Homo sapiens: one gene and its partners. The protein of the gene in region 7 purifies or fractionates together with the protein of the main gene of each other region. This does not show direct contact. Each region holds a gene or a part of one and is shown on either strand. Other genes may lie near its edges.

Region 1 (4,246 bases), on a different chromosome or scaffold from region 7:
CATTTTTCCCAAAAACATGAGGCATTTTCCCTTTTAACATACAAAAACTTTTTCTTGATTTACAGTACTCCCCCTAAAAAGGCCAAAAATAATTACTTTTAGAATGCACAAATTTTTACTGGGGAAACTCACATATTACTAATTGAAAATTGAAAAATTTCTTGAACTGTGTGACTAGAATTCTACAGTTGAGTGGGCAGTTGTAGGGTCCCCAGTTCTCCCTGCTTTCTTTCTGTGTCCCAATAGAAAAACAGAGTGCCTTGTCCCGCTCTGTGACCTAGCCAGCTGCATGTTTTCCACCATAGGTTTGGACCCAAACTGGGGCCTTGAACATTCTCAGGCACTGATAAAGTTGTTCAGGTTGTGGCCCAAAACACTAAAAGATCAAGTATGTTGCTAAACACACAGAAACCAGCCCCAACCCTGAGCCAAATTCCTTAAACCCTCCTATAAACTGCAGCCCTCCTGTGTAAGTTCCCCTAATAAATCCTTTAGACTGATCACCCTGGCATTTAGTGCCTCTTTTTTTGGACTCTCATCTGGCCCTATCTGGAACAGTTTGGGGCAGTCCCTTGTGGAAACTCCCCCGCCACCACTTTTGAGGCAACTCCAGCTGTGGGTTCAGCCAGTAAGAATAGCAGTATAGTATTAAAATCCTGTGATGGCCAGGAAGCAGCCTTATTGATAAAGATAAAAACTCAACGGTGCCATAGACTTTTTGCAGTGTTTCTGAAAGGTTTTCCATTAGGAAAATACCTTGTGCCTACAAAAACAGTATGTAAAATAGACTGATATTATTTAATTAGATATAGAAATACCTGTTTTCTTATCAGATGAAAGTATGATGGAAAAGAACAGGTTAAAAACACTCTAATATGGCTTGAAAAAACTAACTCAAAGTTACATGAATCCGCAGTCTCTTCAACAAAACATAATATTTATTTATATACTGGATAGACACAGCCTAGAAAGGATTTCTTAAAAAGCACAGAATAGTCCTCTGTGAAGATTTAAACAATAAAATATGTGAAGAAAGAAGACTGCCTTAATTAATTTCTGGAAATAATGCTCCTTACCTTATTTAATACGTTGCTTACTTCACTAGCAAAATCTCTTGAACATACTTCTAAATGAAAAATTTTGCCACAGTTTGATACACATGCTCCTAGAAGCTAAAAGCACAAAATCAGAAGTTAAAGGGGCTCAATTGTGGCAGGTAATTTCGTGGTACAGATTAAAATGAAACCACTCACAGTCAAAGCCTGCATAGCAACGTGAGGATCTTTGTGGTTCACTCTTCTCATAATAGACCGAAGACAATCCTTAGGTCTAAAAAAATGAGAAAAGTAAAAATTACTTAATAATACATCTAGCTTCCCCCTGCCCCTTAACTGTTATAGACAAAAGACTACGATAAAAAGGGAGACTATGATAAAGTAGGGAAATTTAATTTTTATTAATAACACGGTTGAAAAACTGTAAACTAGTTCCTTTAAATTTTTCAAACAAAATTAACAGGCTCTCTTATTAGTAATCGTAGATGAGGCATTTCAGGCTAATTCTGGGTAGGAAAAAAAAAAAGGTTTGAAAATAAAATGGTAGGCCATGACTTCCACTTCCAGCCAGGGTGGAAAAACAGACCAGACTTACACTCCCGTTGTAAACAATTAGAAAACTGGAAAAACAGATTTTCCACACTGAGGTTAACTTTTTAAAGACATGAGGCCACAGGCAGTACTGAATGATAATATCCAAGAAGGAAAATGAATTAGATAAGCCAGAAGTTTGCCTCAACTTTCTGCCTAGAGGCACTTTCCAAGTATCAGTGAAGACCTTCTGAAAAACCCACGCATGCACAGGTGAAAAACTCCATGAAACTGGTCAAAAAGTGACCGAGGGCGATATGCTAAAGAGATCCAACGCTCACACAGTCGTCAGAGATGAGGCCACAGTGAAGCATCTATTGAAAATCCAGAGGATTCAGTGGATATACAGGGGAGTTTAGACCCTAGCAATGCAGCTCAATCATACCTACATACTGCCTAACAACATAAGCCACAGACGAATGTAACCACTTCTGAAAAAATAAAGTCCAATACTCCTTAACAGGAATACAACACCTGATGCTCAAAAATATAAAATTCAAAGTACTAAGCATTCAATAAAATGATATGAAGACATGATATGAAGAAGAAAACTACCATACACAACTAGCAGAAAATTCAGTCAACTGAGAATGCAGAAATAACAAAGATGATGAAATTAGCAGTCAAGGACTTTATATAAGCTATTATAAGCATGCTGGAAATCATCCACATAATGATGAAGAAATATATTAAAAAGGGCCCAGATAAAAGTCTAGAGACAAAAAAATATGTAAAATTAAAAAGTGGATGGAATTAATCAGGTAAGAATGAAAGATCAGTAAATTTGAAAATATGCTGAAAGTACCCAAACTGAAGTACAGAGAGAAAAAAAATGAAAAAATTTAACACAGAGCCACCACTACAAATATTTTTAAGAGAAAAATGAAAATAAAATAGCTTGGGTGCAGCAGCTCACACCTATAATTCCAGCATTTTGGGAGGCCGAGGTGGGCAGATGGCTTGAGTCCGGAAGTTTGGGACCAGCCTGGGCAACACTGTGAAACCCTATCTCTACAAAAAATAATACAAAAATTAGCCAGAAATGGTCCCAGCTCCTATGGGCGCAGTGAATGGCCTGAGGTGGGAGGTTCACTTGAGCCCCAGAGGTCGAGGATGCAGTGAGCTGTGATGGCACCACCGTACTCCATCCTGAGAGACAGAGTGAGACCCTGTCTCAAAACAAAGTTTTAAATCAAAAAAATAAAACCATAAAAACCATTTGATTGATACACAAAAGACAGAAAGAGAAAACAGAAGAAACATAACCAATCATCTAGAAAAATGGCAGATTAAGATTGTAATCCAACTACACTTTTATCTATTCACTACCGTTAGCAGTTTTCATAACAAGGAATACTAACAGGGATAAAGAGAGACAGTACATAATAATAAAACGGTTAAGTCCCCCAAGGAAACATAATTCTAAATGTGCATGAACACAAAAATAGAACTTCAAAATATATAAAGGAAACATCGATACAGCCGAAAGGAAACACAGACAAATCTACTGGAAACTTCAACATGCCCCCTCAATGACTTGATAACACAAGAAAAAAAAGTACTGATATGGAATACCTGAATGACACTATCATGAAACTTGACCTGACTGGCATTACACAACAATCCACCCACCCATGGCATTATACACATTTTTTTTCATGTGCATGGAAAATTCAACAAAATGGACTACATTCTGTCCTATAAAACAAACACTGATAAATTTAAAAGGACTAAAGTCATACAAAGTACATTCTTTGACCATAACAAAATTAAACTACAAATTGATAACAAAATGATAGCATAAAAATACCCAAATATTTGGAAATCAAATAACAAATATCTAAGGCTTACAACAAATGAAATCACAGAACCATAATTTCCCTTAAGGACATGAAAATGAAAGCATACTACCCAGTACTCTTTATAAGAATGTTCACAGAGGCTCTGTTCAGAGTCAAAACCTGGATACAATCCAAATGCCCATCAACAGATGAATGGATAAATTGTAATATATTAACACAATGTAATACCTCTTCCCCAAGAAACAGGAATATTGATACATACAAAAATTTGAATTCATCTTAGAAACACATTTAGTGCTAGACACAGGAGTACTGACAATACTATTTCATTTTATGAAATTCTAGAAAAGGAAATTTAATCTATAGTGACAATGCATATTAGTACTTGCATAAGGTGGAAGGAACTTTTGGGAGTGATTAAATGCTATCTTGGTTGGGGTGATACTTATATAGGTATATATATTTGTCAAAACTCATCAAACTATCAAACCATACACATACAAGGGATGCTCTTTGTTGTAGATAAATCACAGGTCAGTAAAAACAGATCTATTTAAATGACAGGCCAAGAATGTAGCAAACATGCATTTCATGGGGATGCTTTATGGTAATTAATGATAATAGTAAAGCAGAGTAATCATTCATATAACCTACGAAACATCATGTGCTTAGGCTCTCAAAAATTATATAATAAGCAAAGGACTCATTCAGTGTTCAAAACATTCACAGCAAACCAAGTCCTCCATTTACTGAAGTTCAGTTCCTTGCCCATGATGCCAGTTACCAGGCAGTAATAGG
Region 2 (3,533 bases), on a different chromosome or scaffold from region 7:
CTCAGAACTTACAATCTAAATGATCTAAACATGATCAATAGAACATGCTCCAGAGAAAAATCTTAACACAGCAGCAGCAGCAATTTAACTGCTAAAGAAACCCAAAAGTAGGGTGGGGGTAGTTTGGGTGGTCTTCCTGCAAGAGGTTACATGGTTCATCATCATTAGGTTTTAATGGAAATACGTGATGTGGACTAGCAAAAAAAAGAAAGATACCATATTAAAATAAGAGGAGGATACAAATGAAGGGATGAAAGTAGGAAAGAAAAGGGCACCTGTGAAAACTCACAAACTTAAAATAACATTAGTGTCAACAATGGGCACTGTGTTGCTTCACTTGCAACATACAGCACCATCAGGTAGGTATGCCTCTTTATCAACTCTGAAAGTGGCTAAATGGTGCTTCTGTGGCACTAATCAAGTACACTCATTCTGTTTTTCTGCATGTAGTTGACAGTGGACTCAGAAGTCAATTCTCTATTGACATGTTTTATAATTATAGAGTCCTTATAGATTTCTCAGGGTGAGACAAAATGCTTTCAAATATCCAGGGTGTAAGTCATAGAGATGCTTAACAACTATGATCTACTTGCTGGCTCAGAAAATGTCTACCTAAACTTTATAATTACTGGTCAAGAGCCAGAGAAATAGAACATGCCCATTCGGATTCCTTTGAGTATCTGTCCATAAAGAACACACAGCAGTACTGTATAATTCTGAGGCTGATAAACAGGTAAGATGTATAAATTATCTTATCCACAAAGAATTCAGTGTTAGTTTACTAAGTTAGTTCTCAATCCTCACATAAAAGTCATTGAAAAACAGAATTTTCATATATACATTAATAATTTTAATGATTTCTTTGTATCTAACCAATTTAGGTAATATTTTCTTTTACACAGAAGGTCCCAAAATAAAGAATAATACACAGAATACAGTCAATAGGTTATATCAATTTACTTCACATAAGAGCATAATTCAGGCCTTTTCCATTTAATAACAAAAACAATCTGTACAGAAAACCCAAAGGCAACCACATAGCATATGTAAAATGTGCAAATACACTTTAAAATGCAAGTTATTCTATAGCATTTGCAAGATAGAATTTCACTGTAATTAGGGAATCTAGTTCATCCTAACTTAATAGTCTTTTGCATGTATAGACAATGCAATTCTACAAGGCACAACTCAGCGTTGATGCTAAAGTATGAAACACATCCTCAGATTATTTATTTGAAAATATTAAAATAGCATCGTTTATTATTTTTTAATGAGTCATGAGCTCATTTCTAAAGCTTCATAAAGCATTACACTGATAACATATGTGTGGTCAGGACAAACTGTTCCCTGAACTTAAAAGGTGAAGGACAAGACCCCATATTATTATCCTGTATTAAAAAAGGAAATATACATATATGTACACAGACACCCCATATCACAGACAAGAAACTTCCCATAATTCAAAGGGAGACCATTTCCTTATTAGCAAAGGTGCGCATTACAGTATTTCATGACAGTTAAAAATTACACACCTACCACCTGTTTTGGTCAATCTTGCTAAAAAAGACACTGAAATAGACAATTTTCTTCTTTAAGGTAAAGACAATGTCTAATTTAGAAAATCTTCCTCTTGAGATTGCACAGTGAAAGGTATCAGTTAATTAAATATAAAAGCTTACCGTTTTTGTTTTTTTTTGAGACAGAGTTTTATTCAGTCGCCCAGGCTGGAGTGCAATGGCGCTATCTCGGCGCCCAGGCTGGAATGCAGTAGCGCGATCTCAGCTCACTGCAACCTCTGCCTCCCAGGTTCAAGTGATTCTCCCGCCTCAGCCTCCTGAGTAGCTGGGATTACAGACACTCGCCATCATGCCCAGCTAATTTTTGTATTTTTAGTAGAGACGGCATTTCACCATGTTGGCCAGACTGGTCTTGAACTCCTGACCTCAGGTGATCCACCCATCGTAGCCTCCCAAAGTGCTGGGATTACAGGCATAAGCCACCATGCCCAGCCAAAGCTTACGCTTTTAAAGAAATTATTTAAATCTACACAGAAAAAAATATCAACTTATTAAAAACTATTAAGAGCACTGTCTATAATTCAAAATCTTTCAAACCCAATCACAAAGCTCTTTGCTGTTTTATTGCCCATCCCTGAGTAAAGATTCTATCATTTGTAATTTTTTAATAACGTAAATTTTACATTGATAAGAATGATGTTTAACAATTTTTTTGAAAATATAAAATAAACCCTATATCATTTTAGTAAAAAAAAAAGAAAATATAAATGCTCTTTGCAAAGACCACCATTCATAAAAATTGTAAATATTTGTATGTCAATTTCTGACATCCTTTTTACTGGGTAATTTCTGTTTTTATGCCGTTCATATATCGCTCATTTCCTCATAACCTGTTATTTTGTACCTTTTGTTAATAGGAGTATTTAATAAGTAATGGAGGAAAAGTACAATATAAAACCTAATGGAACTCTGAAGTGAGATGTGTATTTCCCTGTGGTAAAAGAGTTTTACTGGAAACAATTAATGCGATCCAAATAGACAAAAATATCTATGAAAGAAAGAATACATATGGTAAGCATCTTCCTTGTCTTTGGCTTAGCCTTCTTGACCAAAATCTTCTGTAAACTTCTTTAATTTCAACAAGTCATGTTCATTGACTGTAGGTTTTGTGTTAGATAGTGACCGCAACATATCCGACTGTCAGGGAAAAAGAAGGGTAGGGAGGATATTAATAATAGAGTTAACAAAATAAAAAACCGTCATATTATCATTATTGCTATGAACTTTAACCTAAGTTTAAATATGAATATTTGCAGTCTGCCATAAGATACTAACGATAAACTCCCTATTCTTTTTTTTTTTTTTTGAGTTGGAGTCTCACTCTGTTGGCTCAGGCTGGAGCGCAGTGGCGTGATCTTGGCTCATTGCAACCTCTGCCTCCCAGGTTCAAGAGATTCTCCTGCCTCAGCCTCCCAAGTAGCTGGGATTACAGGCACCTGAAACCACACCTGGCTAATTTTTGTATTTTTAGTAGAGATGGGGTTTCGTTTTGTTGGTCAGGCTGGTCTCGAACCCCTGACCTCAGGTGATCCGCCTGCCTCTGCCTTGCGAAGTGCTGGGATTACAGGCGTGGGCCCCTGCACCCGGCCCCTATTCTTTCACAGATCTTTCATGATCTTTGATCATGTTATTCCTTTGTGTAGAAACGTATACTTTCTTCCCCTGAACTGATCAAATGGCTCCCCAATACTTATCAGAAGGACAATCCCCTTAGTCTGAGGATCAAGGCCTCCAAAGTATGTTCATGATCTAATTTCTGGCCTTATCTCTTTTTCTTAAACGAGATCAATTTTCCAAGTCAGTATAATTCAAAAGGAAAATATCATTCACTTACACTTAAGTGAAGCAGAATACCATTCTATGAAAAATCTACTAACCAGAATTTTAAAATAATTAGTTACAATTAAGATCGAAATGGTTAGAAAAATATGCTAATATCAGAGATTCATTAAAAAA
Region 3 (4,246 bases), on a different chromosome or scaffold from region 7:
TTTCTATATATACTGTTGAATTCTGTTTACTAACATTTTGTCAAGGGTTTTTACATTTATATTCATTGGAGATATTGGTCTGTAGTTTTCTTGTACTGTCTTCATTTGTTTTTGGTATCAGGGTAATATTAGCTTTATCAAATGAATTGGGAAGTGTTCTCCCGTCTTCAGTTTTCTGGAAGGGGTTGTGTATAATTGATGTTAATTCTTCTTTTACATTTGGCAGAATTCTCCAGTGAAATCACCTGGGTCTGGACAAATCTTCTTTGGAAGTTTGTTAATCATAAATTCAATTGCCTTAAGTTATAGGACTCATCATATTAGTTCATATTGGATGAGGAATTGGTCCAATTCAAGTTGTCAAATTTATGTATACAAAGTTGTTTTTAGTATTCCCTTATCTTTCTTATGTCAGAAAGGTCTGTAGTGTATCCCCTATTTCATTCCTGATATTGGTAGTTTGTGCTTCTTTGTTTTCATTGTCAGTCTTGCTACAGGTTTGTCTATTCTACTGGTCTTTTCAAAGAACCAGCTCTGTTTTACTGATTTTCTGTTCTTAATTTCATTAATTTCTGCTTCTCTAATTCCTTCCTTCTGCTTCCTTTGGGTTTACTTTGCTTTTCATTTTCTAGTTTCTTAGGAGGAAGCTTACGTTATTAATTTGAGACTTTTCCTCTTTTATAATGTATGCAGTCAGTGCTATACATTTCCCCCTTTGCACTGTTTAGCTATGATCCCTTTTTCATTTTCATTCAGCTCTCTCTCTCTCTCTCTCTCTCTCTCTATATATATATATATATATATTTGTTTTGTTTTGTTTTGTTTTGAGACAGAGTCTAGCTCTGTCACCCAGGCTGGAGTGCAGTGGAGCGATCTCGGCTCACTGCAAGCTCCGCCTCCCGGGTTCACGCCATTCTCCTGCTTCAGCCTCCCGAGTAGCTGGGACTACAGGTGCCCGCCACCACGCCTGGCTAATTTTTTGTGTTTTTAGTAGAGACGGGGTTTCACCATGTTAGCCAGGATGGTCTCGATCTCCTGACCTCGTGATCCGCCTGCCTCAGCCTCCCAAAGTGCTGGGATTACAGGCGTGAGCCACTGCACCCGGCCTCAGCTCAAAATATTTTTAAAAAGTTCCCAAGACTTCCTTTGTAATCCATGGATTATTTATTTAGAAGTGTGCTGTTTATTTTCCCAGTGCTTGAAGATGTTCTTATTATGTTTCTGCTACTGATTTCTAGTTTAATTCCACTGTTGCTGAAGAATACATCATTCCATTCTTTTAAATTTGCTGAAGTTGGCTTTAGGACCCAGGGCATGGTCTACTTTGGTATATTTTCTACAGACACTTGGAAAAAAAAAGGGGAATTCTGTTGTTGTTCGGTAGAACATTCTATAAATACTAATTAGATCTTATTTGTTGATGGTATTGCTGAGTTCTTCTGTTTCCTTGTTAATTTTCTGTCTAGTTCTATCAATTGTTGAAAGAGGAGCGTTGGCTGGGCTTGGTGGCTCATGCTTGTAATCCCAGCACTTTGGGAGGCCGAGGTGGCTGGATTGCTTGAGCCCCAGAGTTCAAGACCAGCCTAGGCAAGATAGTGAGACCCCATTTCTACAAAAAATAGAAAAATTAGCTGGGTGTGGTAGTGTACACATGTAGCCCCAGCTCCTTGGGAGGCTGAGGTAGGAGGAGCCCTTGAACCCGGGAAGCAGAGATTGTAGTGAGCTGAGACGGCACCACTGCACTCCAGCCTGGGTGACAGGAGTGACACCCTATCTCAAAAAAAAAAAGAGCAGTGTTGAGGTCTCCAACTATAATTTTAGATTTTTCTATTTCTCCTTTCAGTTATATCAGTTTTGCTTCATGTGTTCCCTAGCTCTGCTGTTTAGTAACATATATTTATGATTACTGTGTCATCTTGGTCAATCACAACTCTTTTATCACTGTATAATGTACTTCTTATGTCTGGTAATTTTCTTTGCCCCAAAGTCTACTTTATCTGATATCAAGATAGCCACTCCTGCTTTCTTTTGATGAATATCTGCATGAATTATCTTTTCTACCCTTTTACTTTTACCTTGTCTCTATCATATTGGAAGTGAGTTTCATGTAGACAGCATACAGCTGGGGCATGTTTTTTAATCCATTCTATCAATCATTGTCTCTTAATGTATTTGTATCTAATGTAAGTACTGAAATGTTAGGGCTTAAGTTGGCCATTTTATTCATGTTTGTTTTCTGTTTGTTCTTCCTTTTTTAATGTTTTCTGTCTTCTTTTTGCCTTTCTCTGGGTCACTGGAACTTTTTAAAATTCAATTTTCATTTATCTGTAGTGTTTTTGCATGTATCTCTTTGTATAGCTTTTTAAATGGTGGCTCTAGGTGTTACTATATATGTATATACATATGGCATATATATACATATACGCATACACATATATACAGACATACATGTATATATGTATATACATATACCCATGTATATGTATACACACACACACATAACTTATCAGTCATTTGGTGACATCATTTTATTAGTTTGAACAAGGTACAGAAACCTCACCTCTCTTTACATTCCTGTACCTTCTCCCGCTTATAATTATCTTAAATATTTCCACTGCTGGGTTGGGGTGGAATTTTAGGTTCCTCATGTGTCTCCATTGATATGGCAAGAGGGGAAAGCCTGGCAGGATGAAAGTCCTGGCTCCCTACCCAGCCTTCCCCCACATCACCTTGGCAGGGGAAGGCTGGGCAGCTCATTACATCTGGTTGGGTGAAAATCTAGGCTCCCCACTCAGCTTTTGCTGGCATGGGTGGGACTGAGGCCACAGTTTTCTCTATGGAGTTTAGTTGGAGTAGAGCAGTTATTGTCTAAAAGTTTTCTTTCTTGCCAGGAAATGCTGCCCATTTCCAGGTCCTGTGGCTAGAGAGCAGGCTTTCATTAGGCTTTTTTTTGGTCTGTGTCCATCAGCATTTCCAGGTTACTAGCTTCTTCAGCTTCAAGTCTGGGCAATATGAGGCAAAAAGAAAACTTAGGAAACTCATTGCCTTGTTGTTCCTAGGGTCTCAAGGTCCCTAGCCAGTCTACCTTCTTCTCACCACCTTTCAGAGTCTTCCAATGTTTGTCTTATATATCATGTCCAGAGTTTTTAGTTGTACTTAGCAGGAGGAATAAGGAAAAGTATGTCTACTTCATCTTGTCAGAAGCAGAGTCTCTAAATGAATTTTATACAACTGCCTCCCACAATGGGATATGAGTGTATTTGGTTACAATATGTCTATTTTCAGGATGAATCAAAACTGGTCAAAAAGCTACAACAATGATAAAAACGTTGTTTGACTTTGTGTTTTCTCCCTACAAAATCTCAAATTTGCTTCTAGTGATGAAGATACTTATTTCTCTAGAAGTATTACTAGAGAGCTTTGTAAGAGGTTACATCTTAAAGTTAAAATCTCCATTGCCTCTTATCTTAGTCCATTTAGGCTGCTGTAACAAAAATTCCATAAACTGGGTGGCTTATAAACAACAGACATTTATTTCTCACAGGTTTGGAGGCTAGGAAGTCCAAGATCAAGGCACTTGGAGATTTAGTGTCTGTCCTCATAGATGGTACCTTTGCACTGTGACCTCACATGGCAGAAGGGCTTGATCATTCTTTACAGTCTCTTTTATAGGATGCTAATCCTAATCATGAAGACTTTGTCCTCATGACCTACCTAATCACTTTCTGAAAGGCCCCACCTCCTAATACCTGCCTCAGGGATTAGGATTTCAACACATGAATTTTGAGGGGACACAAACATTCAGACCATAGCACCTTTATTACCCTCAGTCTGCAGAAAGGAGAAGTTCCACACTTGCATTAGCCATATTTTCAGAAATTAAAAAATTTCTCTGGTTTAAAAAATGTTGTCTTTCGACCTTAATAAGACTGAGACCAATTCCCTTTAGAGACTATCTACTTTGTCTCTCAAATAACTTTCAAAAGTGTTATATTGCCCCCAACAGAAAGCCTTCTTCTTTTTTTTTTTTTTTTGAGATGGAGTCTCACTCTGTTGCCCAGGCTGGAGTGCAATGGCACGATCTCGGCTCACTGCAACCTCTGCCTCCCAGGCTATTCTCCTGCCTCAGCCCCCTGAGTAGCTGGGATTACAGGCACGCGCCACCATGTCTGGCTAATTTTTTTGTATTTTTAGTAGACACAGGGTTTCACCATGTTGGTTAGGCTGGTCTCGAACTCCTGACCTC
Region 4 (4,040 bases), 920 kb from region 7:
AAACATATAGAAAGACTACGATGGCAAAAGTAGCAAGTGGAGCCCCCAGGAACTTGGCTTACTTGTTAATAAACTGCTCGAGGCCCTGCCTCCTTTCTTCGATGAAAGACTCCTCAAAGATCCCTTCATCTCCTCGGAAAGGGAGCTGCCGCTTCAAGGCTTTCCCAGGCAGTGGTGGTACTACAATCTGCAGGCACACACAAAATTCCAGCCACATGGGAGAGAGACAGAGTGGGAATGAGATGGTAAAGCACCGTGTACCTCATTTCTTATTAGGCATAGGGTCCATCCTGTCCCACAGCCAGCAACTTGCAAGAACTAAGACCATAAGAACAGTCAGGATGGCTCAGGTCAAAAATTAATCCGTTTCTGTGGGAAGACAGGTTTACCACCTCAAAAGAAGGAAATAAACTCCAAATAATCCTCACTTTCCTTAACAAGCCACTACCATTCAAGAATTTAGCTAGGATTTTCCTGACACTAGACTTTCCATTTTTAGCACCTACAGGAATTAAGTTGTACAACTTTACTAGCGACTAAGTGAAGTAATACTTTAAAAAAAAAACTTGTCCTGAACTTACCACTTTCTTTTTTTTTTTTTTTTTTTTTTGAGACAGAGTCTTGCTCTGTCATCCAGGCTGGAGTGCAGTGGCACGATCTCAGCTAACTGCAACCTCTGCCTCCCAGGTTCAAGCAATTCCCATGCCTCAGCCTCCCAAGTAGCTGGGATTACAGGCATCCACCACCACACCTGGCTGATTCTTGTATTTTTAGTACAGGCGGGGTTTCACCATGTTGGCCAGGCTGGTCTTGAACTCCTGACATCAGGTGATCCGCCCGCCTCAGCCTCCCAAAGTGCTGGGATTACAGGCGTGAGCCACTGTGCCCAGCCAGAACTTACCACTTTCAAGTTTCAAAAGGTATCCCCCCGATCTAAAATACTGAGATTTGATGGATAAGAATGTGTTCACCCTCTTCATTCCCTTCAAGACTTTATAGACTGTGGTTGTATGCCCACTCAGCCTATGCAGAGCTCCTCCTCCAAAGATGCCACACAGAGAACAAAGCCATACCTTGCTATCTCTCTCCAGCTCATTTTTCAGCCACTCAAAGTCACTGTAGCGCCGCCGTACGCAGGACTCCTTTAGCTTGAAGATAGGTAGGTTTGTCTACATGGAAGGAAAAATTAAAGAAGAAAGATGGTAATGTTCAGCCTGTGGTAGCCACCTGTCTGAGTAACTTGGACAGGTCCCAATGAAGAAATAGCTCCTATGGATCATGCTCCTATAACCCCTTCAAATCACCACCAGGTAAAAACCAACCCTTACCACATCCAACCTTATCATAGCTGATGATCAGAAGTCCCTTGCTGCTTTGAATTTATCCTACAAGTAGACTTGCAGTAGTATGTAAATATGTACATATAAGAGTTTTCACCAGGCTTGGTGGCTCACGCCTGTAATCCCAGCACTTTTGGAGGCCAAGGCAGGCAGATCACTTGAGGTCAAGAGTTCAAGACCAGCCTGGCCAACATGGTGAAACCCTGTCTCTACTAAAAATACAAAAATTAGCCAGGTGTGGCGGCACACACTTGTAATCTCAGCAACTTGTGAGGCTGAGGCAAAAGGATCACTTGAATCCAGGAGGCGGAGGTTGCAGTGAGCCAAGATCACACCACTGCACTCCATCCTGAGAGACAGAGTGAGATTCTGTCTCAAAAAAAAAAAAAAGAGTTTCACTGCATTTTATTATTTATAATAATAATAAATGTCTATGAATAGACAATAGGTTACAATGAATTATGGTATACCTGTATAGTAGAATATTAAATAACTATGAAAAGAATGTGAAAGCCAGGTGCAGTGGCTCACACCTATAATCCCAGCACTTTGGGATGCCGAGGCAAGGGATCACCTGAGCCCAGGAGTTTGAGAGCAGCCTGGGCAACCATAGCAAGATTCCATCTCTACAAAAAGTAAAAAAGCCAGGTGTAGTGGCAGTGCTCGCTTGTGGTCCCAGCTACTCAGGAGGATCACCTGAGCCCAGGAGGTCAAGGCTATGGTGAACTGTGATTATGCTACTGTAATCTGGCACAGAGACTCTGTCTCTCGAAATAAAAATGAAAGATCTCTATGTGCCAGTATGGAAAGATATTAAGTAGTAAAATCAAGGTATAGAACAGTATATATATATAGCTTGCCTCTATTTGTGTTTTAAAAAGGGATGTATATGTATATATTTATACTGATTAATAAAGTATTTATGAAAATATACTGGTAATGGTGATTGACTTTCGAGAGTAAGAGAAGACAACTGGAATGGGTGGAATAGTCACATTTTTCATTGTACAATTTGAATTTATCATGTGTACATATTACATTTTCCTTTAAAAAGTGAATTTAAATTCCCTGTAAAGAGATAAACACATCCAAGGTATGCCTACCTCTGCTCTTCCTGTCCAAATCCTCTCCATTCTACCAGTGCTCACTCAACTCTCACTTCAAACAAAAAAATTTTCTGACAACAACAACTGGATTTATTGGTTTTCCTCCTCTCTGAACTCTTCTGACAGTTATACTTTAGCATTGCCTGATACACTATTGTTTTATGCATCATGTTTGCCTTGTCTAACTAACTAATCTCATTAAGATCAGAAACTATGACTACTTCTGCATCTTCTAAAATGCAGAATATGCAAGTTACTCAATAAATGCTCAATTGATTAATAGAGACTCTATGTGTCTGTTTATCCTCTCCTCATCTAGAAAATGCATAAGAAATCACCATTACAAAAGTTGGCTTACCATAGCTTGCTCCCTGATATAAATCAGCTCATTCCCACATTTTAAACACTGAGAAGATTCCCAAGGCTCTAGTGGCAACACGAATCCCCTGACAGAAAACCCTGATCTTCACTCCTGTCTACAAGTTCTAAATAGAAATGGCCAACCACATGTATTAATACTGACCATATTTACTGCCAGTCAATTCAGGTGAGAGGATGAATAAAATAAACTAGTTATCTCCTTTCTCCACAACTGCCTCTTGGCAGGAAAAGAGCAACTCGAAACTCCATTAGAGCTTCACACAGAACCCACTACATCATGCTTTGTACTCCTTGACACTGGAAATTGTCTTTTCAGGATCCAGTTCTCAAATAGGCCATCAAAAGCCAAATAACTGGCCAATTGTACATTAAACTCCATCCAGGATCGTCAAGGTCCAAGGAATGTCAATAGGTTGAAATGGAGTGAGATTCATATAAAGTAAGATTACTAAACCATTATTTATTTAAAAGAATAAATAAGGGCTGGATGCGGTGGCTCACGCCTGTAATCCCAGCACTTTGGGAGGCGAGGCAGGCAGATCACTTGAGGTCAGGAGTTCGAGACCAGCCTGGCCAACATGGTGAAACCCTGTCTCTACTAAAAACACAAAAATTAGCCAGGTGCTTGTAATCCCAACTACTCAGGAAGGTGAGGCAGGAGAATCGCTTGAACCCAGGAGGCGGAGGCTGCAGTGAGCCGAGATCATGCCACTGCCCTCCAGCCTGGGTGACAGAGCAAGACTTTGTCTCAAAAAAAAAAAAAAAAAAAGAATAAACAAGGCCAGGCGTGGTGGCTCACACCTGTAATCCCAGCACTTTGGGAGACTGAGGTGGATGGATCACTTGAGGTCAGGAGTTCGAGACCAGCCTGGCCAACATGGCGAAACCCCATCTCTACTAAAAATACAAAAATTAGGCCGGGCATGGTGGCTAACACCTATAATCCCAGCACTTTGGGAGGCCGAGGCAAGCGGATCACTTGAGGTCAGGAGTTCGAGACCAGCCTGGCCAACATGGCGAAACCTGTCTCTACTAAAAATACAAAAATTAGCCAGGCGTGGTGGTACATGCCTGTAATCCCAGCTACTTGGGAGGCTGAGGCAGAAGAATCACTTGAACCCGGGAGGCAGAGGTTGCAGTGAGCCGAGATCATGCCACTGCACTCCAGCCTGGGCTACAAGAGCAAAACTCTATCTCAAAAAAAAAAAAAAAA
Region 5 (5,018 bases), on a different chromosome or scaffold from region 7:
AATAGTATCATCTATCTCAATCACTGTTTAATAAAGACAGTCCTCCTTAATTCTTTTTACATGAAATGTTAATGTGGAACAATGATGCTTTTCATCTGTCTGGAAGAAATTCCTCATGAAATCAACAATGTAAAAGTTTTAGAAGGAAAAAATGTCATACATCTTAAAACAGAAGTCATATTAGTTGTATTTAAATGGTTGTATCTTTGTTCCAACTTTTAATCTTCCTTTTCTCAAGGTACATTCAAACTATAAATTTTCTTGAATAACTGAGTCAAAAAGAAAGGAGACTTGAAAACTAGGTACCAAAATAGGGTGAGGACTCTGCTGGTAAATCAGATAGTCTTGTAATATTTCCTTCTTTGGACGTGTTAGAAAACAATTGCTAAAAGGAACATAAATTTCTTTTTGAGAGTATGGCTAAGATTGTGAAATACATTCCTGAGATTTCCAAATTTTGTACTGGGAAACTTTTTGTTAGACTATCAAGCCTATTAAGGGACTCACAAATTGGAGTCATACGGGACATCTCTGCGGTTTTTTAATAGCTTCCAATTTACCAGTTGAGGATTCTAAGAATCATCAGTGAAGACAACGTAGTGAAACAGGGATTTGTTATATCATGGGATTCTCTCTAAAACCTTTAATTTATGGAATTCTTTCTGGGGTGGTAGAGGCGGAGAAGAGGAGGATTAGAGAAAGTTAAGATTCTTGGTTGAAAATATAACTTTTAAAAGTAAAGTGGGGGATAAACGAGGAAAATTACACCATATGTCAAGGGCATTATTTATCATAATCCACATTTTCAAACTCTAAGGAAATTGTTTATAAACAACGTCTGGATTTTTCCTTTGCAAGCATATACAATTTTTAAGTTTGAACTTCTTCCCTCAGAATTACTCCTTGTCTCAAAAAGTTTCAAAAATGTCTTTGATTTTTCTCCCCCTATTAAACAGACTTTATTTTTAAAGCATTTTTTAGCTTCACAGCAAAATTGAGCAGAAAATTCGAAGTTCCCATGTACCTCCCCCATGCCTTCCTGTCTCCAGCAGCCTCCCGGACTACCAACAACCCGTATCAGTGCAGTACATTTGTTACAAGTGATGAAACACATTGACACATCATTATCCCCAACATACATAGTTTACATTAGGGTTTACTCTTGGTGTTCTACATTCTATGGATTTTGATTAATGTATAATTACATGTATCAGCCATTTTATAGTATCATACAGAATAGTGTCATTACCCTAAAAATCCTGTGCTTCACCTGTTCATCCTCGGCAGCCCAAAATATGTTTACTTTTGCAAAGTTGTCTTCAAATAAATACTTAAAAGCAAGGACAAGACCCCCCAAGTTTTAGACAAGTACTAAATTAAGTAGCTCTTACCTACTTGAAAACTAAATGAGAGTAGTATTCATCAACAGAAAGCTAAGCGGGCAAAATGCTTTCCCCGCTTTTCCCCCATGACAAGCAAGATTAACCAAAAATATTACAGTTATTTAAAAGAAAAAAAGAAAGAAACCAAATGGGAAGAGAATAGAATGCAATCACGCTACCATTAACAATTTATGTTTTTCTGTTCTTGGATACCTTTTTGAGTGCCTGAGAATTTTAGTCGCAAGGAATGAAAAAAACTGTTTTCTCATTTCGAGTTTTTATTGGTCAATAGCTTCCTAACCGAAAACTCTGCAGTCCTAACACAATATTTTGTATCCATTTTCAAAAATCCAGTTCTGGGCATAAAATAGAATTAATGCTCAAGTCAAAAACTTTGTGTTTAGAAGATAAAATATTAGGAACCATGAGTATGAGAAAAACAAAAACTGTTTTCTGTATTTTTCCCTTCCTCTCTCTGCAAAACTTCTCTATTTGATAAGGGACAGCTAGCTTAAATTTACCACAAAGTAAAACATGAGCAAATCCCCTGGAACGAGGAGAACTTTCGCACAGGGCAATTCACTCGAATGTGACATCAGCATTCCTTCTGAGTCATAGTCTGGTCCCCACCCTTTTCTCCCAGGCGACACCAGGCTCCGCATAACCCGGGAGTGGCTCAGGTAGGGCCGTCGGTTCCAGTGCCTGCGAGGCAGCAGCCAAGCTGAAAATGTCTCCCTGCGCTGAGACGCTGGTGACAACCGCCCTTTGGGACTACCTGCCAAACAAGGAGAATGCGCTCTTTGACAGATAATTCCCTAAGAGGGAGGCACTGCCTCGGTCGGTAGACAAGTAATGAATGACCGAAAAAAAAATCACATTAGAAGTTATCACCAGCACGGGTGCGAAGGCAGTGCATTAAATCAACACTCATTTTAGAGCGCCCCAGACAGCCCAGCCGGAAGGGAGGAGATCAGAGCTGTCAAAGCACAGCAGAGCCCCAAACCACAAAGGCTTAATGAAATTCAACTTCCTGAGCCAGGAAGTGTCACGGTCTCGCCCGCACTCGCCCTAAGCTCGTCCTTTCCTTTTGAGGAGGCACAGGCAGAGCTGAAACATCTTAAGTAAAGTTTCCAACACCTACAACCACTGGGATTCCGTGAGACTGGAGAGAAGAGTCCCGCGCCCGCCCTCGCTCGCGCTTCCAATTCTGTCGCTCCCGAGTGTGGGGAGCTGGCGGGGCCGCCGAGCACCTCCTCTACCCAGGGGGCCAGGTCCCTGGGCCCGGGGCACCGCAGACCCAGAGCCGGGCTCACACCGGGGGGCCCGCGAGCCCCACCCACCTCGGCACCTCCGGCCGCCGCGCGCCGCGCGACCCGCGCAGGTGAAGCAGCCGCCGCCCGCCACGAGCGCCCCCCTACCTTCTTCACTTTGTTTTCCAGGTCCATGTTAACGCGTCCTATGGGTCCCCTCCTCCTCCTATCCGGGATCCCACGGCCGGGTTCAGCTGGCCTCCGGCTCCGCTGCGAACACGGGAAACCTGCGGAACTCCCGCGGCGCCGCTCAACAGCCACTCGCCCGGCGCCGTCGAACTTCCGCCGCCCAGTCCGCCGCAGCGGGCCTGCGGCCCGGACCCGGGAACAAAGGGGGCCGGGCAGCCAATGGCAGCCGGGCAGCTCCGGGCCGCCGCCAATCACCGAGCGCCGCACGCACCTTCGCGGCCCGAGCGCGGCGCTGGCAAGGTGAGAGGCGGGGCGGCGTCCGAGGCGGCGCCCTGCTGGGCAAGCTCAGTGACCCTGACCTGGTCTCCGAAGGGATTCTCTGGGCGTCCACGGGCCGGCTTCTAAAGAGCTGGGATCCCCAGCCTCCCTCTAGCTGAAGATGGAGAAGAACTTTTTCCATTTGGCAATTTGTACCTGTGTTTGCCCAGGACTTTTTATTTGGGTCAAGGGGAATAGTTATCCCAATACTAACTTCTCAGTTTATTTTCAGGGTAAAGAGAGAAAAAAAAGAGAGAGAGAGAGATTGTAGGGATCGTTAGGGATTCCTGTGATGGACCTTGGGCACTAAATTCAATATTGCGTTGTGGAGATGCCCTTTCCTCAATTGCTTTTTTCCACAATCCCAAATACTGTCAAGAAACCGTATCTTACATCCCTAAAGTCAGCGAAGATTCTTAGATTGTTTTCTGAGCATTGGGTTGTTCAAAAGTAAAGATGATGTGAATCACTTCAGAAACAGGTTGTGTCATTCCTTTGGAAGCAGAGGGTTGCCCTTTGTCTCTGTGTGAGATGGTGCTAGGCCTATCGCGTGCTCAGGCTTTGATGAAGCAGAGTCATCACATTGGTGCACCAAAGCTGAATTCATTTCATGCCCTAATTCAGGAGCAATTGCATCTAATACCATCAGATTGGTCGGTCTGGAAGGGAGCCTAACGATTACTTAGTCTAGCTTCCTCACTTTGCAGGGAACTGAGGACTCCAGAGGTGCAGGGACCTGCCTAATGTCTTAGCCTGTTGGGGACAGAGGCATTGCTCATGAATCTAAACAACTTCTCAAAGATGTTTGGGGCTGGAAGCACAGCATGTTGACTAAGGAAAAAGAGCAGTCAATTTTCTTCAATTTGTGGTTATGGCAAAAAATAACATTGCCCAGACAGCAGGTGACCTAATTTGGCACCTACTTTTAAAAATAACAAAACAATATAAAACAAACAAACAAAAATTCCCTAATAATGCAGATATTCAGGTCCAGATGTATGTCTGCCTTGCCTCGAGAAATTTGGTAGCTAAAAATATCCAAAATTCATTTTAGCCAATACTTGCAACTCTGCTTACTTGATTATTTGTTAACACAGAGCATTGATTTATAATGTGCATGTTTCCTTTATCCTATTAAGAATTAAAACTGAAATTACCAAAATGAGTTATGCATTTTTCTTTTCAGCTGATGTAAAACTTTTCTGTGTCATTTTCCCAAACCACCTTGAAAGGTGTGGGCCCCTGCAAAGTCTGCCCGTTGTAAGTGTATAGGATCATGAGGTCTAGCTATGACAAGGCAATTTTGTTTCTTTCAGAGAGCTTAACAGATGGAAAATGTCCAGTAAAGCAATTTAAATAAGGCATCAAACAAATGTTGTAACATAAATTTTGGACCCTTATTTGATGAGGTTGCAGAGATGACACTAAGAAAACCATCTGGAAACTTTTTTTTTTTAACTGTCAACTTCTGCCTTTCTCCCATTCTTCCTTCCCAACCCTCTCAGCATTACATTGTGTGTGTGTATCATTGGCAAGGATGGAAATAGAAATTCAGTGAGTTTTATCTGGAATTATCACTGTGCCAATTATATAAAAATAATTATAGATTATGTATAAATTATAAAAATAAAATTGAGGTAGATAAGTGTTAAGAGAGTTAAATTGTAAGTTTTTGTTCAGTTATTCAGGTGTTAAGCTACAGTTATTAAGGAGGTAGAACTGGCATGGTTTGATGAGTACATGTAGTTGATGACAGTGGAATGAATAGAAGATGGCACACATTTCTATCTTGATCACCTCTATGGATAGCTCAGAAAGAGAGAAAATATAGGATGATGGTCAGGGTTTTGTTCAGTTGTGCATTCTTTGGGGCTGGTGG
Region 6 (4,246 bases), on a different chromosome or scaffold from region 7:
CACCAAGTGGCTGGGGAAGTTATCTGATTTTTTTTGGACAGTTATTTTATCCTGGTAGAAGAGGACTTAAAATTCCCAATCCTCCACCCCATATTCGGTGTTTATGTATTCACTAAGCATGTTTTGTACTGAAATGATTGGTGTAGTTAGATTCTTATATTCAATGGAATTTGGAAAATATTTTTTATTTTATTATGTAAATAGCAGCCAGTGTTTATGCATTTAGCTTTAAGCTTTGATTTCTTTTTATCAACATGGCATATCTTTGATACTGACATTTGCAGAGTTTCTGCTACCTATTTATGGCTAAACTAAGCTTTGTCTAGTATGTGAGATTGTAACGAGAGAATGAAAATGAAAATTTAAAGAACAGCAATTTAGACTTTTCTGATGTTTTAGGATGGGTGGATTGCTTAAGATAAGCATTTCCACCGGATGTGGTGGCTCATGCCTGTATCTCAGCACTTTGGGAAACAGTGGGTCACTTGAGCTCAGGACAAAAAATTTAAGTTACCTGAGTGTGTTGGTACATGCCTATAGTCCCAGCTTCTCCAGAGGCTGAGGCAGAAGGATTGTTGGAATGTGGGAGGTTGAGGCTGCAGTGAGCCATGATGGTTGGTGCCACTGTACTGCAGCCTGAGTGACAGAGTGAGACTCTGTCTCAAAAAAAAATTTCATAGTTGTTTTTATTTTCACTGATGCATTATAGCAAGAAAGCATTAACAGAAGTAGTATGTGAAACTGTTTATGGATCAAAATCAGTGACCCCCCAGGCTGCTTAGTTTTCTTTTCAAAAGACAATTGATTTGACACTTGCTTTTAGCTTTAGAGAGGTTTTAGAATTGTAAGTATAGGCTTTTACAATGGAGGAGGTTGTAGGAAAAATGGAGGAGGCCGTAGGAAAAATTTGAACATTTTTACTTCTTAGTCTATTAAAATTACCTGTAAACATCTGATGTAGGAAGTTAGGAAAGATGCCAAGACATACTAAATTGATGTGAAGAGGGAAACTATATATGTATATAACTAAAATAATTAATCCCCAGGTGAATTGTTTCTGGCCACTTCAAAAAATTGTTTTTATGTTGGAAAGAATACACTCTTCTGAAGGTAATGTAGTTTCTGACATCATGCTAAATATATAGTATGCGCTGAATAAACAGGAACATATGGTGTGTTTCAATCATGAATTTAAACACTTGATGCATTTCAGTCATGGATTTAAAGGTATTTGATGGGTTTGAGTTGCAATTATTATCCTTTTTGACGGTCAAGTTGTCTCCCATTTGGTCAGTGGTAGCCTTTTCCAGTTGGCTCCAGAGTCCTTTTGACGTGACCTTAGTAGTTTTTGATAGTATCCTTATTCTCTGGTATAAGAATATGTTCCAAGCTCATTTCCTGCCCCAGATGTGAATCAGATATTTCTCAAGAAGACCTGCCTTTTAGTGGGAAATGGCATTTCAAGACTACAATCTTGGTGGTAGAGAAGTTTATTATTACTCAGCTACATAAAATACTAAGACTTGCAATTCAGAATGAGGAATACAGCGTTTTAAAAAGTTTTTTTTTTGTTTAGGTAAAATATACTTATATAATTTACTGGCCAGGTGCAGTGATTCATGTCTGTAATCCCAGAACTTTGAGAGGCTGAGGCAGGTGGCCCAGGGTCACTTGAGCCCAGGAGTTCGAGACCAGCCTGGGCAACATGGTGAAACCCGTCTTTACAAAAAATATAAAAAATTAGCCTAACGTGGTGGCATGCGCCTGTAGTCCCAGCTACTCCCAGCTACTTGGGAGGAGGAGGTAGGAGGATCACCTGAGCCTGGGAGGTTGAGGCTGCAGTGAGCCGTGATTGTGCCACAGCACTCCAGTCTGGGCAACAGAGTAAGACCTTGTCTCAAACACACACATGCACACTTGCACACTTATGTAATTTACCATCTTTACCATTTTAGTTTTCTTTCTTCTTTTTTTTTATTTTTTTGAGATGGAGTCTCGCCCTATGCCACACTGGATCGTAGTGGCGCGATCTCGGCTCACTTCATCCCCCACCTCCTGAGTTCAAGCGATTCTCCTGCCTCAGCCTCCTGAGTAGCTGGGACTACAGGCACACACAACTAATTATTGTGTTTTTAGTAGAGACAGGGTTTCACCATGTTGGCCAGGATGATCTCTATCTCTTGACCTCGTGATCCACCTGCCTTGGCCTCCCAAACTGCTGGGATTACAGGCGTGAACCATCGCCCCCGGCCCCATCTTTAGCATTTTAAGTGTACAGTTTGGTGGTAATAAATACATGTATATTCTTTTTTCTCCCCTTTTATCTCTCCTGTTCCTTGCTCAGTCTCTAGTAATCATCAGTCTTTAGACTCTTACCTTTGTGAGATCCACTGTTGTAGCTCCCACATATGTGAAAACGTGATGTTTGTCTTTCTGTGCTTGACTTAACTTCACTTAACATAATGGCCTATAGTTCCATCCATGTTGTTGCAAATGACAGGATCTAATTCTTTTTTATTGCTGAATAATATACCACATTTTCTTTTCCATTGATGGGAACTCAGGTTGGTTCCTTGTTTTAAAAAAATGTATTTTTGAGGCAAGGTCTTGCTGTTGCCCAGGCTTTAGTGCAGCAACTCAGTCATAGCTCACTGCAACCTCAAACTCTTAGGCTCAAGGGATCCTCTTGCCTCAGCCTCCTGAATAGCTAGGACTTACAGATAGGGTACATGCCACGATGCCTGGCTAATTTATAATTTTTTTTGTAGAGACAAAGTCTTGCTATGTTGCCTAGGCTGATCTCCAACTCCTGGCCTTAAGCAATCCTCCCAGAGTGCAAAGATTACAAAGCATGAGCCATTGCACTGAGCTGGTTTCATATTTTGGCTGTTGTGAATAGTGCTGCAGTAAACATGGGAGTGCACAGGGATTTTTCTTTTCTTTTCTTTTCTTTTCTTTTCTTTTTTTTTTTTTTTTTTTTTTTTTGAGACGGAGTCTCGCTCTGTCACCCAGGCTGGAGTGCAGTGGCGCGATCTCGGCTCGCTACAACCTCTGCCTCCTGGGTTCAAGCGATTTTCCTGCCTCAGCCTCGTGAGTAGCTGGGATTACAGGCATGCGCCACCACGCCTGGCTAATTTTTTTGTATTTTTAGTAGAGATGGGGTTTCACTGTGTTAGCCAGGATGGTCTCGATCTCCTGACCTCGTGATCCATCCACCTTGGCCTCCCAAAGTGCTGGGATTACAGGTGTGAACCACTGCGCCTGGCCCAGGGTTTTTATAACTTTTTGCATACCAGGAATCCTGGTTCTCTCAAGAACACAGGCAGGGTATGATAGAATCAGGATGTCTTGTAATTACTGATTGTAACCAACATTACACATCAGAAAGTCTAAAATAATAATGCGAATATTACTGCCACCAATATAATTACTAGGAATGTTAAATTTTTTTTTTTTTACATATTCTCTATTTCTAGCCCCCATTTAAAAGTTTTTCTGTCTCCCTTGTCTGAGCATATTGCTATTACGTAACTTTCCCTTTTGTTTTTTTTTTTTGAGACAGAGTCTCACTCTGTTGCCCAGGCTGGAGTGCAGTGGTGCGATCACAGCTCACCGCAACCTCTGCCTCTTGGGTTCAAGTGATTCTTGTGCCTCAGCCTCCTGAGTAGCTGGGGTTACTGGCACGTGCCACCATTGCCTGGCTAATTTTTGTGTTTTTAGTAGAGACGGGGTTTCGCTGTGTTGAACAGGCTGTTCTCGAACTCCTGGCCTCAAGTGATCCTCCCCCTGCCTTTGCCTCCAAAGGTGCTGGGATTACGGGCATAGTCACTGCCCCGGCTGACTTTCCCTTTTAACTGTCAATCTTAGTTTTACAGTAGGTATATATCTCATGCCTACAACCAGTCCTTATGTCATTGTCATTGTATTCTCTCTGTCTCTCGTCAGTTTGGTTGTCTGAATGAAGCTTATTCTTTAATAGATTATTGAAAAGCGGCTAATTGAAACAATATTTCTGGAGTTTTTTTTTGTTTTGTTTTTTTTTGAGACAGAGTCTTGCTCTGTTGCCCAGGCTGGAGTGCAGTGGTGCGATCTTGACTCACTACAACCTCCACCTCCTGGGTTCAAGCGATTTTTCTGCCACAGCCTCCTGAGTATCTGGGATTACAGGTGCATGCCACCACGCCCGGCTACTTTTTTGTATTTTCAGTTGAGACGGGGTTTCTCTGTGATGGCTGGGCTGGTCTCG
Region 7 (4,246 bases):
TTTCACTCTTCCTACTCTTTTCTCCCTCTCCTCCAGTTCTACCTTTCTTCTCCATTCCCATCCTCTTCCTCTCTTCCCCTTCATTATAGTCAGCACAATTTTTTTTTTTGAGATGGAGTCTCATTCTGTCACCCAGGCTGGAGTGCAGTGGCATGATCTCAGCTCACTGCAACCTCTGCCTCCCAGGTTCAAGCAATTCTCCTGCCTCAGCCTCCCGAGTAGCTGGGATCACAGACGCGCACCACCACACCCGGCTATTTTTAGTAGAGGGGGTTTCGCCATGTTGGCCAGGCTGGTCTCAAACTCCGGGCCTCAAGTGATCTACCCGCCTCGGCATTCCAAAGTGCTGGGATTACAGGCATGAGCCACCGTGGTGGCCAGTTAGCACAGATTTTAAAGGTTTAACTCCCTATGCCTTCCCTCAGCAGCCACAGCTTTCCACAACCAAAACCAATTTTTATTTCAGAGACATTTCTGTCCCCCATGGTATACCACAAAATTACAAATGACTACAAGTGTGTTACAGATTAAAAAGCACTGGGGAACACATTAAATTAAAGAGAAAGCTACCTTAGTGACCCTTCGGCCTTTCTATACTCATCTTGATAAAAACAGTGATTTTATGGAGACTTAAAAGGATCTTAATTTGATCTCCTGTAGAATACTCAAATCTCTGGCAGTAGATTTCTCTGGCCAGGCTTACCTCTCTTGAAGAGTCTCTTTCTCTCAGGATCTTTATTTCCTGGTCAATGCTCTCAATCTCTTCTAAGCTGATATCAATCCACCTCTGAAGGTGAAGAAGATAATATTCACGAACACGCTCATCATCTGCTTGACCACTTTCCACAGCAGATTTCATTGCAGACAACCTATGCTCCAACTCCTTCTTCTGCTTGTATCTGTTCCACAGAAAAGCATTACCCATGAACTTACAAATGAAGAGGTATTCCTTCAAAAGAAGGCCTCAATAAGATTTTACCTTTGCAAATGATAGGGTAGTAAGCATACCAATTTCCACCTTGGCAGGGATATAGATTCTATACCCCAGAATTAGCCACCAGGCAGTTCCCTCAGATGACAAGTTAGGGCCCAGCAGGGGCTGAGGAGTACCTTCTGAAGCCAGAAAAATACAGAAGTAACCGGATCTCAGCAAGTCCTTTAGGGAAGATGAGTACCTTAGTCATTTGATTATACTGGCCTTTACTAGGGTGGGTGCTTAGTATCGCAACACAGTGCTTCCTGTGATGCTTCCATTTTGGGAACTACACCTTCAAAAAAATCATAGAATCTTAGGGGTCATTTACCTGCCACTGATGCAGGAATGCCTTGTGAAACAGCCTAAAAAATGATCAACTCTTTTTTTCTTCTGGGCAAAACTTTCGCAGCTCTTCTGGCTCATCCTTTTATCATCTGAAGACTCATAACCACCCTGGCTGCCTTTCTTTTTCAGGATGCATTCTAGTATGTCATCTGACAAATGTCTACTGAGTACCTATTGTGTGACAGGCACCATTCTCAGTGCTGGAGACACAGCAGCATATAAAAGTCCTTGGTCTCATGAAGCATTCATTCCAGTGGGAGTAGACAAAAAGAAATAGATGAGTTAGGTCGTGATAAGTGCTATGAAAGAGCAAAAAGTAAGGTCAAATGCATACAGTGATGGTGGAAAAGTAGCGGTGCTATTATATACAAGGTAGTCAGAAGAGAACTCTCTGAAGAGATGACAGTGAACAAAGACTTCAGGAAAATAACTAAGCCAATATCTAGAAGAGTATGCTAAGGAATAAAAGCAAATACGAGGGCTGTGAGGTGGGAGCGTGCCTGGCCTGACATGGCTGAGAAATAACAAGGTGGCCAGTATGGCTGAGATAAAAAAGAGTGATAGAAAATGAGGTCAGACATAGCCAGGGCCATAATGTGTAGAACCTGGTAGGTCACAATAACCAAATATCAAATATCATGGTATTTTGAATGGGAAAGCCACTGGAGGCTTTTGAATACATGACATGAATAGAGTGACATAAAAACACTTTTAAAAATATGGGCCACTCTGGCTGTTGTGTGGAGTATGGGCTGTGGGGGCTATGAGGCAAGGATATAAGCAGGGAAAGCAACTAAGAGGATACTGCCACAATCCAAGTGAGAGATGGTGACCTGAAATAGGAAGGTAGTGATGGAGATAGTGGGATGTGGGTATATTTAAAATATAAAATAGATAGGATTTGTTGATTTATTGGATGTAAGAGCCTGAAGGAAAGAGAGAAGTCAAGGAAAAACATCAAGATTTCCAAGAGACGTATCTTGAAATATCTCTGCTTGAAATCCCACTTTAGACTCTCCAGAATCAGATGTTCCTCAGTAGGTCTTCACCCAAATCAGGGGGTCTTAAGCTGAAGTCCACAGAGAGTTCAGTGTGGTGGGGGTGGTCCTTGAACTCCCACAAATTTTATACAGAACTCTACCTGTATGCTTTCTTTTTCTTTCTTCTTTTTTTTTTTGGCTGAGAAATTTTTATAGATTTTATCAAATTGTCAAAGGGGCAAGGGGTCCATGACCCATGAAAAGTCAAGAACCGGCCGGGCACAGTGGCTCAGCCCTGTAATCCCAGGACTTTGGGAGGCTGAGGTGGGTGCATCATGAGGTCAGGAGATCAAGACCACCCTGGCCAACATGGTGAAACCCCATCTCTACTAAAAATACAAAAATTAGCTGGATGTGGTGGCAGGCGCCTGTAATTCCAGCTACTCAGGAGGCTGAGGCAGGAAAATCGCTTGAACCAGGGAGTGAGAGGTTGCAGTGAGCCGAGATCGTGCCACTGCATTCCAGCCTGGCAACAGAGTGAGACTCCATCTCAAAAAAAAAAAAAAAAAAAAAAAAAAAAGTCAAGAACCACTGTTCTGAAAAGGCTATTATAAAAATGTTTAGGCTCTTCTGTTCCTTTTACCTAACAAGTGGACATTTACTATAATGTTACGAATAACTGACACATCATCATCCTAAGAAGCTTTTTGAGTAAAACACTACAAAGAACTACAATTCCTAGTTCATGAATGCTATCAGAGATATTACTTGAGAATGTTTAACTCCAATCTCACTCCTATCCCCAACCCTCTTTCCTGGATGTACCTAAGTCACGGGAAAAAAATAACATACGAGGACCTTAGGGTGATATAATTCAGGGTAAATTCAGGGTTAGTCTAGTAGTCCTCTGAATAAGGTTCTTTTGTTTCTTTTCCCATTCTCTGCATGCTTAAGGCCTAACTACTGCACTCTGCTCCTTCCTTTTCTTCTACTTCCTAGCTTCTATGACTTTGCTCATCATCTTTGTTTGTTTGTTTGTTTTTGAGATAGAGTCTTGTTCTGTCACCCAGGCTGGAGTGCAGCCGCACAATTTCAGCTCACTGCAACCTCCACCTCCTGGGTTCAAGTGATTCTCCTGCCTCAGCCTCCCAAGTAGCTGGGATTATAGGTGTGCACCACCACACCCAGCTAATTTTTGTATTTTTAGTAGAGATGGGGTTTTGCCATGTTGGCCAGGCTGGTCTTGAACTCCTGACGTCAGATGATCTGCCTGCCTTAGCCTCTCAAAGTGCGTTCCAGGCGTGAGCCACCGCGCCCAGCCTGCTCATCATCTTTTAAACTTCTAACTCAACACTTGTTCATTTGGGCCAGTGTTTTTAAAACTGTTTTAGTAAAAGAACCTTTTCTTCTAATGAGAGATGCCACGGAACTCCCATAATTAATAAACAAGTAAAATTTACCTTGGTTAAATCAGGAGGGCTGTCAACACCCGCCCCCCCAACCCCCAGGCATTGCAGTGAAATTTTAGGGCTCCAAGGAACATATGGAAAACTACTGTCTTAGACCTTCATCACTGTTATGGATTCTCCATGGTGGGCCATTACATGGAAATACTCCCTGTTACCCTAGAATCCCCTATCCTTGTAACCCTTCTGACCCTGGGCAACTTCCATTTCCTTTCTCTGTTCCCAAGCTGTTGAAGAGAGTTAAGGAATTAGAAACTTGTATCAAATGGGTCAACTACAAATCACTATTGTCAAACTTTGGCTGAGTGGTCACCCTTGCTCAGCCATCCTTTCGTTCATCTTTTGTGAAGACTATTATCACCATCACACTCACCAGATGGCCAGCCAATGTAGAATTCAATTTCCCTCTTCACCATAAAATCTCTGTAACTGGCCGGGAATGGTGGCTCACGCCTGTAATCCCAGCACTTTGGGAGGCC

What was found.
Region 1: the proteins of IGBP1 (region 7) and STAM fractionate together in Homo sapiens (co-fractionation; one large-scale study listed by BioGRID). This does not show direct contact.
Region 2: the proteins of IGBP1 (region 7) and VPS4B fractionate together in Homo sapiens (co-fractionation; one large-scale study listed by BioGRID). This does not show direct contact.
Region 3: the proteins of IGBP1 (region 7) and GLO1 fractionate together in Homo sapiens (co-fractionation; one large-scale study listed by BioGRID). This does not show direct contact.
Region 4: the proteins of IGBP1 (region 7) and SNX12 fractionate together in Homo sapiens (co-fractionation; one large-scale study listed by BioGRID). This does not show direct contact.
Region 5: the proteins of IGBP1 (region 7) and TES fractionate together in Homo sapiens (co-fractionation; one large-scale study listed by BioGRID). This does not show direct contact.
Region 6: the proteins of IGBP1 (region 7) and PPP4R2 fractionate together in Homo sapiens (co-fractionation; one large-scale study listed by BioGRID). This does not show direct contact.

The regions. Positions count from the first base shown.
Region 1 is NC_000010.11:17,681,758-17,686,003, reverse strand, and holds part of STAM (signal transducing adapter molecule 1), read right to left. Parts: intron 1,330-4,246; coding exon 1,254-1,329; intron 1,173-1,253; coding exon 1,077-1,172; intron 1-1,076. UniProt on the Homo sapiens protein: Involved in intracellular signal transduction mediated by cytokines and growth factors. Upon IL-2 and GM-CSL stimulation, it plays a role in signaling leading to DNA synthesis and MYC induction. May also play a role in T-cell development.
Region 2 is NC_000018.10:63,388,363-63,391,895, forward strand, and holds the end of VPS4B (vacuolar protein sorting-associated protein 4B), read right to left. Parts: intron 2,715-3,533; coding exon 2,613-2,714; 3' UTR 828-2,612; downstream 1-827.
Region 3 is NC_000006.12:38,692,903-38,697,148, forward strand, and holds part of GLO1 (lactoylglutathione lyase), read right to left. Parts: intron 1-4,246. UniProt on the Homo sapiens protein: Catalyzes the conversion of hemimercaptal, formed from methylglyoxal and glutathione, to S-lactoylglutathione. Involved in the regulation of TNF-induced transcriptional activity of NF-kappa-B. Required for normal osteoclastogenesis.
Region 4 is NC_000023.11:71,061,781-71,065,820, forward strand, and holds part of SNX12 (sorting nexin-12), read right to left. Parts: intron 2,932-4,040; exon of another isoform or gene 2,808-2,931; coding exon of another isoform or gene 2,805-2,807; intron 1,170-2,804; coding exon 1,074-1,169; intron 188-1,073; coding exon 63-187; intron 1-62. UniProt on the Homo sapiens protein: May be involved in several stages of intracellular trafficking.
Region 5 is NC_000007.14:116,208,517-116,213,534, reverse strand, and holds the start of TES (testin), read right to left. Parts: upstream 2,997-5,018; 5' UTR 2,828-2,996; coding exon 2,801-2,827; intron 1-2,800. UniProt on the Homo sapiens protein: Scaffold protein that may play a role in cell adhesion, cell spreading and in the reorganization of the actin cytoskeleton. Plays a role in the regulation of cell proliferation. May act as a tumor suppressor. Inhibits tumor cell growth.
Region 6 is NC_000003.12:72,999,675-73,003,920, forward strand, and holds part of PPP4R2 (serine/threonine-protein phosphatase 4 regulatory subunit 2), read left to right. Parts: intron 1-4,246. UniProt on the Homo sapiens protein: Regulatory subunit of serine/threonine-protein phosphatase 4 (PP4). May regulate the activity of PPP4C at centrosomal microtubule organizing centers.
Region 7 is NC_000023.11:70,143,286-70,147,531, reverse strand, and holds part of IGBP1 (immunoglobulin-binding protein 1), read right to left. Parts: intron 900-4,246; coding exon 704-899; intron 1-703. UniProt on the Homo sapiens protein: Associated to surface IgM-receptor; may be involved in signal transduction.